Homo sapiens: one gene and its partner. The protein of the gene in region 2 interacts with the protein of the main gene of each other region in a pairwise test. Each region holds a gene or a part of one and is shown on either strand. Other genes may lie near its edges.

Region 1 (2,541 bases), on a different chromosome or scaffold from region 2:
ATTGGGGCCCTCTGTGAATTTCTTTATACTGTTCTTTCTGGAGTCTCATAAAATCCTGGGTCTGTGTGTAGAGGGGAATCTCATTTAATAGGCCTGGCTCCCTTTGCTTAGACTGGAGATTATTGAATGGGAGATGGATTGCCAGCCTAAGAGAGGGGACAAGTCTCTTACTGCTCACCGTGATCAAACTACTAAAACCTGCATTTAAACCTAGAATTATTTTAACCCCTAAAACTCACCCTTTCCCTCTAGTGCCTGAACAGGAGAACAGATTCCGTTTTTTTTTTCTGACTTCCAGATGTGCAATATGATAGTTAATTGCTAACAGAGGCTACGGTATCCGTTTGCTTCCTCCCTGCTAGGAGTAGCGAGAATATTCCATCATCACGGTTTGCATTGCATTTTGGAGGTTACCATTAACAAGCTCTGAAAAACTGAGCTGACAGCAGTGATAGTAACTGAGTCTCCCACCTCTCAACCCTCAGCTGCCCAAGCAGAGTTCAGAATCTGGGAGATCCTCATCTGAGCATCTGTTTATGTCTGTTTTTGCCTTTTAGAGCCTGTCTACGTCCCCTTTCTCATCGTCGGCTCCATCTTCATTGCGTTCATCATCCTGGGCTCTGTAGTGGCTATTTATTGTTGCACCTGTTTGAGACCCAAGGAGCCCTCGCAGCAGCCAATCCGCTTCTCACTCCGCAGCTATCAGACAGAGACCCTGCCCATGATCCTGACCTCCACCAGCCCCAGGGCACCCTCCCGGCAGTCCAGCACAGCCACGAGCTCCAGCTCCACAGGCGGCTCCATCCGCAGGTTCTCCTTTGCCAGGGCTGAGCCGGGCTGCCTGGTGCCCTCACCGCCCCCGCCATACACCACCAGCCACTCAATCCACCTGGCTCAGCCATCTGGTTTCCTGGTGTCACCCCAGTATTTCGCTTACCCCCTCCAGCAGGAGCCCCCACTGCCTGGGAAGAGCTGTCCAGACTTCAGTTCCAGTTGACACGCCCAGGCCATGAATCCACAACTCAGTCAGATGGCAGACAGGTGGAGCCCTGCTCCCATTGCCACATGCAATTCTGAGAAAATTTCCCTTGTAACTGATCAGTGTCATGGAGGAGCATGCTAGGAAAACACAGCACCTTCTAATTTGAAAGTTCCTGTCTCCAATCACAGAAAGGCTAAACCAGAGAACTGTTTTCTGGTTTTGCAAACATGTGATCATTACATTTCAATCTATGCTACTTTTATTCAAAATATGCAGCAGTTTGACTTTAAAGTTGCAAACTGGCTAAAAACGTTTTACTGGACATTCAGCTATATTGCTTAGAAAAGGGCTACATGTTTCTTTTTCATATAAGTTGTTCATTGAGTTATGATAGGAATATATTCATAAATAAGCAAAGAAAAATACCTAATTGTAATTATCAAAGGTTCACTTAAAAAATTAACTATTAGGTAAACTTAAGGGGGCAGTGAAAAATCTATTTATGATTTCGGGAGTAACCTAACCATGAATAATATTAGCATAATGAGAACATTTACTTTTTAAATAAATAACTAAATTTTGTTTACAATATGAGTTTTTCCAGAATACAAGGTTTCAATAATCACATGAGGAGTTTAAAGTTTTAAATATATACTCAGACATTCATTGTAACACAGAGTGTATGTAAAATCATTTCCCCCACTCACTGGAGGGAGTATTTATTGCAGACTTTTTGTTCAGCAACATTTAGTGTTTCAGTGAAAGTTGGACAGTTGGGGCTTAAAACATTTATTTGTAAAATGAGCTATGTTCAAATGTAAATATTTGTAATTTAATGTATTTACCACATTGACTGTACTAATTATTTAGTAGTCATACTGTAATTTTTATGTTAATAATAACTGGAGTTCAAAGTCTAGCTATTGGTATAATCATCTAATATTATATATATCTCCAGTGCCCCTGAATTTTATGTTTGATGACTATATATTTGGGCATATATCTTGTTGGATTAGAATAAATAAAACACTTTATATTTTCATGAACTCTATTTAAATTTTAATGTGATTCATTTTATCTCTTTAGCGATCCTTCTTTAAAAAAAAGGAAATGTTTTTAACACATACTTCATATTTTAAAATTAAAAAAAAATTCCATATCAGGGCTCGTGAAAGCAGCAAAGGAAGTGAATTTTTATGGAGGTCTCAGTCTACAGCCCTCCGATGTGTTTGGCCTGTAGAGAATTCATCATTAGGACGTTTCTCATAAGAATCTGGATTTCTGGCTTCTCATGACATAGAGGACGTGGCACCAGGGGTCCTGCACTGCCTTGGGGTCAGGTCAATCCTCTTCAGACAGGACACCTGCCATTTGCCAGCCTCCTGCCTGGTCTCCCCACCTGGCCCATCTATTTTTGCTATGCTACCTACCTGGCCCCTGCAGGTGTGGTTTGAAAGCCCAGATTTATAGGAATTCATACTATCATATGTCACTCTCAGTTTTCAAACACAATTAGTTAGAGGCAGAATTCTGTCCTAAGAGAGTTGTTTGGCCTTGTC
Region 2 (6,981 bases):
ATCCTGTCAAGTAAAATGCCAAGTAAAAACTGTATTAAGAAACAGATTACAATATGTGTCACATTTATTTAGAATAAATCTGACAAGATACTGGGAGAATTTCACAGACAAATTTGTTTCACTTTCAAATGTAATGTTTCTCATTAAAACTCTCCCTCCTCTTAAAAAAGGTGGGGGGGGTCACATTTATTACCCTCCCTTTTTTGCTCAGAAGGAACTAGTACTAGTGGCCTGGGTGAGGCAGAGTTCATAGCAAAGCCAGGAATCTAGCCGACATCTGCCTCACACACCACGACCCTCACGTGCAAAAAGGCCTAACTTCAACGCTGTCTCTTAGCAAGGAACGTTTTGCCAGAATTCGGACTTCACAAGGGCCCTCTTCCAGCACTGCCCATCTCAGCTCCTTCAGAATTAAAGATAATCAGTCAAGTGTCTACTGACTTGAAGATCTCCAGAAAGGAGCTCCAGGAAGTCTGAGGCCCATCCCCTGACCCAGCCGTCCGCCTCTGCGGCTTGTAGAGAGCCAGTACTCACACAAAGCAGGCAGTCAACTGGCAATGCAGGTTCTGAAATCCATGGCACTGGCTGTCCACATGCTACAGTGCCAAGGCCATGTCCGGACACCAAAAGATAGGGACAGAGGACTGTTCCTGCCTCCACCCAAAGTATGAGGGAGGGGGAAGGCAGGAAGGACTAGCGCCGCCCCCCACCCCCCCCCCACCCCCAGAGTATGCACTCCCCTCTGGAGGACAGCCTTTGTTCTCTGAAAACAAACCACTTGGCACTGAATGCTCAGTAAAGTTAATTTCAGGAGAAGAAAACAAAGTTAATTTTATGCTTCAAAGATCCCTACAAATACCATGCCCAGCTTTTAATAAAATACTATAGGTACCATTCATGAAGCATCTACTATCTCAAAGGAGATTACATTTCTTATCTCATTTAATCCTCAAATAATCGTGAAAGATGGGTGGTTGATCTGATTTTAACTTTTAAAAGAAGACAACCGTGGTTCACTGAGGCTAGCAATTTGTCCCCCCTCACCCAGATTGTGAGTCCTGGATGCCGGAGGCTGGCCCGGGTCTGCCAACACCAGCATTAGCCAAAGCTGAGTCTAGATCTGCGTTCGTTGACCTCTGGCCTTCTGAAAGTTCAAAATGAAGGAAAGGATAGCGTAAGGCAAACCAGGCAAGCACTGCCCGCAGCTATTGTGTGCCAGAGGCCATGCCAGGTCCAGAAGAGGAAGCAAAGAGAATAACAGGACGCCATCTCTATCTTCAAGGAATTTAAAACGTAGTGGGAGAACTTCACTCACGAACAATCAACAAAAAACAAGATAAAATGTGCCTTTGTGAGGATAAGAGCCAAGTACTAGGCAGCAAGGAGAAAGGAGGGATTCAGATTCCGACTGCGAGGACCGGAAATAGGGCGTGCTTGGAGGAGGCTTAAGGGGCGAGCACAGTCTTATCTGACTGGCGGCTTCAGGGACAGGTTTCTCCCCATCTTGAGGAAACCGGGAAAATCCTTTAAGTGAGCACAATCCACGAAGGCTGGGGGACAGAAGCCCACCTTGTAGGGACATGCCTTGGGGGTAGAGCAGAGATTCCAGCAGAAAACCAAGGGGGTGCCCGCGACCTCGCCATTGCCCAACCCATTGGTTTAAATCTGAATTGAGGCTGTCGCCCAAAATGTTTCCACAGGACACATGTGAAAATGTGGCCCCTGGCCGGCGCTAGGCTGTCAATTTTTACCTCCCCTTCCCAATCTGAGACACGCTGGAGGGGTGGCGGCGAGCGACCCTCGGCGGCGCGCTCCGTATCTCCCCAGTGGAGTCCGCCCTCCGAGGAGCGCCCGCTCGTCCCTATCCAACCCAGCGGCGCGGAGCGGGAGCCGGCGTCACCGCAGCCCCGCAGTCTGACGCGCCCACAGCAGGGGCGGGGGTAGCGGGGGCAGCGGAGATGGCCCTGGGCACGTGCGGGAATCAACGTGACATTTCCCAAACCAGGCAGCCCAGAGAGCCCTGGACGTGAATTGCTCAGCGGCTGCGCGGACGGAGCTAGGAGGGCTCTAACCTGGCCGGGGGCGCTTCGCCCATCCCATGAGGACCGAGAAACTCAGCCTGAGCCGGTTCGATTCTCCTGTCAGCTTGTGTTACACGCTCCTTCTCACCTCTGCGGGCGGAACCTAACGCGAAGGCTCGGCGCCCCGGGGGAGGCCGGGCGGGAGCGGGAAGCACTTCGGGAAGCGGACGGTGGAAGGATGCGGGCTGGGACCGCAGTAATTAACACGGACTCAGTTCCTATTAGGTGTTCCGGTTTGTTCATTCTCAAAGGGACCCGGCCAGTGTTACCACCGGCCACATTGCCACTATTATCTCAAATTCCAGATAAGAATACTGCGGCCTAGAGAAGTTAAGTTCGGGGCTGCCTAATTCTTTTACAACAAGGTGGGACTAGGGATGTCAAAAACGTACCCAAAGGTCTTCAAGCCCCCAAAATGTCTCTGTGACGCCGTCTAATATCCCGCTCTCTACCCAGAGGATAAGGATTTGGGAGCCGCCGCCAAGCTCGGGTCCTTACCCGGCAGGATGAGGATGTCCACCAGGGGCTTGCAGTGGTACAGCCCCGTGGCCATGACGCAGTCGGCCCACAGCCCCTTGGAGCCCAGCTCATCCAGCTTGCGGCAGGTGGGGATGGTGTAGCCGCAGGTCACCACCCAGTCATTGGTGGAGGTGGTCACGATGACCCCGATCCAGCCCACGAAGCTCGTGACGAAGCCCACCACCTGCAGGCACGTGGCCACCATGGTGGCCGCCAGGATGTCCCCGTGCCTCGCCCCTCACGGCTGTGCCTGGGCCTGGGCTGGACAGTGCCTGCCCAGGTACGTCTCCCACGCTCGCGAGCCGCTGGAGGGCGACGGCCCGAGGCGGGACACTGGAGGTGGAGGTGGGCGCCGGAGGCTGCGAGCTCAGCGGCGAAGGGCGCACGGCGGGGACAGCAGCGCTGCTGGGCAGCGCGCCCCCGCCCCCTCTTTAAGCCCCGCGGCTCCGGCCGGCGAGCACCAATCGGCGGCAGCCCCGGGGCGCGCCGGCCAATCGCGGGGCGGGGCCGGGAGGGAAGCGTGAAGGGGAGCAGAGTAACCCCAGGGGGGCCATTGGGCCGCCCCACCCCGTCCGCAGCGCAGTCCGGCGATGCAAAGTAAAACAATTCCATCCAGGTCCAGAGAAACGGAGAGCGCAAAGAGGGCGTGCGTTTGTCGAGAGTTCTGTTTTCCTGCGACTGGTTTCTCTTCTTATAGCCCCTCTCTCATCTCAGTCTCTGGGTGTCCATTCCGCTCCGACCCTCCTCAGCTCCTCCCTGCTCGCTCCTTCTTCCCTGCTGCGAGCACTCCAAGGGCGCTCGGTACAGTCCCCCGACGACCCAGGATTGTGACAGACTGAAAAGTGCAGTAGGGACAAACGCGAGGCATTCAGTACACACAGTTACTAGAAGAAAGAAAACGATGCTTTTCAGTGGTTGAACATCATCAGCGGCAAACGTGGCCATAATAATCAACAATAGCAACTCACATTTATCGAGCTGTGTTATATATTATGCAGATGCATTTTACATGCATTAGCTCATTTAATCCTCATAACAGCCTTTGAGGTAGGAACAATTGTCAATGACACATACTAGGCCGGGAGTGGTGGCTCACACCTGTAATCCCAGAACTTTGGGAGGCCAAGGTGGGCGGATCACCTAAGGTCAGGAGTTCGAGACCAGCCTGACCAACATGGTGAAACTCCATCTCTACAGAAAATACAAAAATGAGCCGGGCATGGTGGCGCATGCCTGTAACCCCAGCTGCTTGGGAGGCTGAGGCAGGAGAATAACTTGAAGGAGGTTGCAGTGCGCCAAGATCGTGCCACTGCACTCCAGCCTGGGCAACTGAGTGAGACAACGTCTCAAAAGCAAACAACAACAACAACAACAAATTACACGCACTAGCCATAGAGAAACAGCACAAGAAGGTTGAGTTGCCCAAGTTCACGCAGCTAGGAAGGGGTAGATACCATGGGCCCATCTCATCCCTTTCACGAACTGTTTCTAGGAAACTGTCCTGATCAGTCTGAAAATTCCTAAGGGGTTCATGTGTCCCATTTTAGACGCATTAAAAGCTACAGCAGACTTCTCTGGCTCACTGTAAATAAATTAATATCTGTACCCCACTGAGAAAACTGCCTAGCCCAGAATGAGCGCTCTGATAGTGTAAAGCTATCATCATCACCATCAACATCATTAAGCCACCATGCATACAAATAGGCCGCATTATTTGCACCTTTTTATTCAGATAGGGAAGTCTTCCTTGAGCTGCATTTACATTCAACAGTTTTCACTCCCTTTGAAACATTTGGCTTATCTTATTATCTCCTTCTATCCATTCCCTTGGACCACTGCCTCCTCACCAATCATGAGACTTAAAGGTGTGAGGATTTCAGAAAGCACAAAAACTTCCTGCTCAGCGTTCTAAAATCTAAGATACTAACCATAAATCATAGGTACTGAGCTTTCCCAAAGCCAGCCCTAATGCTGGTTATCAGTGCAATCACCATGTCTTCTAGGAAAGCCTGGACTTGAGGAGACAATTACATTTCCCTGGAGACCCCAAGGAAATCAAGTGCACACACAGAAATGGCTCTTGTAATTGATAGCAGAGTGTCAAGTACAAGGGTCACAGTAATCACCCAGGAAGCACAGTGACTAAGAACACAGTCCAACTGCCCAAGTTCAAATCTTGGCTCCATCACTTTCTGGCTGTGAGACCAAGTTACTTTATCATTCTTGGCCTCCTTTTCTCATTTGTAAAATAAGGATGAAAACTGTACCTACCTCATAGACTTTTTTTTTTATTCTGTGAGCTATTAGGTTGGTGCAAAGTATTAAACATAACGGCAAAAACCACGATTACTTTTATACCAACCTAGTAATATATATGCAGAACTTAAAGTAACATTGGTACAAAGTAAGTATTCAGAAACCCCTGGCTAATGTGATGCTTCAGAACGTTGTTGTTGTTGTTGCCGTTGTTGTTGTTTTGAGACAAGATCTGTGTCACCCTGTCTACAGTTCAGTGGCGTGATCACAGCTCATTGTAGCCTTGAACCCCGGGACTCAAGTGATCCTCCCACCTCAGCCTCCTGAGTAGCTAGGACTACAGGCATGAGTCACTATGCCCAGCTAATCTTTCTTATTATTAGTAGAGAGAAGGTCTCACTATGTTGCCCAAGCTGGTCTTGAACTCCTGCGCTCAAGCAATTCACCTGCCTTGGCCTCCCAAAGTGCTGGGATTATAATAGGCATGAGCCAGCAGGCTTGGCCTGATTTTGCATTCTTATGTATCCTCCCTATATTCGTATGAGTTTGATTTGTGGAAACTATTCCATAGGAGTATGTTCTGAGTGAGCCATTGTGTTTGGGGGACGTTTCATCACCAGGGTCTATGGACTGAATGTTTTCAGATATTTCCTTATAACACTTTTTTAAAATGGCTTTTGTGCTAAATACAACATAAAACATAAAACCCAAGCAACATCAACTTCTTGTAAAAGCACTCATGGAATCTGCACTCTTATGCCTCCATTAGAATTTGACATTCGAACCATGAAACTTCAACCAATCAGAATATAATAATGCCCAGATCATCCACAGGTCACACACACATAGTGTTTGTAAAGCCAGATTTCAGAACTCAGGCACTAAATGGTAAAAAAAAAAAAAAAAAAAAAAAAAAATTGCCAAGTTGTTAAGATTGCTGTCTTGGACTGGGACCTCCTAGGTTCACATTCTGTCTTCACCACTTGAGCTGGCCCTTCACCTACGTGACTCTCAGGTTCTTCATGTACAAAGTGAGATAGTAAATGCCCCCTTAGGGCATGGTGAGGATCAAGTGAGATAATTTATATGAAGTACTCAGCATAGTGCCCAGCACTGCTGGACACTCATTCACATTAGACACTGTTAGAATGATTTATAGGAAGCGTAGATTAATTGGAAGTGGGAGTTCCCTTTGGTAGAGATACAAGCTAAATAATTAGGGTATTATTATTATCCAATGAAAGCAATTGTAAAGCCAGTGTCTAATCCATTCCAGCATAGATGTACAAAAGGCCACTTGAGGAGGCCACAAGATGTAACCTGTTTGAATTCATTAGCCCAAGGTAAAGAGAGGGCTTGTCCCTTCAAAAGGAAGGCAGGAAGCCATGGAAGCAAAGAGAACTGGGGGCCAAGAGGCAGAGAGACGCAATGGGAATCCTTGACTATTTTCAGAGTCTGTGGCTCACAGACTCTGAGGATGCGGTGCCATTAGCAAGGCTCTGTAGGGTGGGGAAGTCCCTCAAGCTATCTTAGCTGAGACTTTTGCTAAAATCATCCACATTGCGGCCAGGCACAGTGGCTCACCCCTGTAATCCCATCACTTTGGGAGACCAAGGCGGGTGGATAACGAGGTCAGGAGTTCGAGACCAGTCTGGCCAACATGGTGAAACCCCGTCTCGGGGTTTCAAAATTATACAAAAATTAGCTGGGCGTGGTGGCAGGTGCCTGTAATCCCAGCTACTCAAGAGGCTGAGGCAGGAGAATCTCTTGAACCTGGGAGGCGGAGGTTGCAGTGAGCCGAGATCGTGCCATTGCACTCCAGCCTGGGTGACAAGAGCAAGACTCCATATCAAATATATATATATATATATATATACAAAATTAGCCAGGCATGGTGGCACATGCCTGTAATCCCAGCTACTCAGGAGGCTGAGGCAGGAGAATCGCTTGAACCCGGGAGGCGGAGGTTGCAGTGAGCCGAGATCATGCCATTGCACTCCAGCCTGGGCAACAAGAGCAAACTCTGTCTCAAAAAAAAAAAAAATATCATCCACATTGCTTGGCTGTGGCTCTCCTCCCAAACCCTCTTTGTGATTAAGACCTGACTTCCCATGCAGCACAACTT

The links. The genes of interacting proteins can lie anywhere in the genome.
Region 1: the proteins of CLDN11 (region 2) and SHISA3 interact in binary tests that used the Homo sapiens proteins (3 or more experiments, as listed by UniProt).

The regions. Positions count from the first base shown.
Region 1 is NC_000004.12:42,400,455-42,402,995, forward strand, and holds the end of SHISA3 (protein shisa-3 homolog precursor), read left to right. Parts: intron 1-557; coding exon 558-997; 3' UTR 998-2,033; downstream 2,034-2,541. UniProt on the Homo sapiens protein: Plays an essential role in the maturation of presomitic mesoderm cells by individual attenuation of both FGF and WNT signaling.
Region 2 is NC_000003.12:170,414,891-170,421,871, reverse strand, and holds the start of CLDN11 (claudin-11), read right to left. Parts: upstream 3,005-6,981; 5' UTR 2,806-3,004; coding exon 2,580-2,805; intron 647-2,579; exon of another isoform or gene 535-646; intron 1-534. UniProt on the Homo sapiens protein: Plays a major role in tight junction-specific obliteration of the intercellular space, through calcium-independent cell-adhesion activity.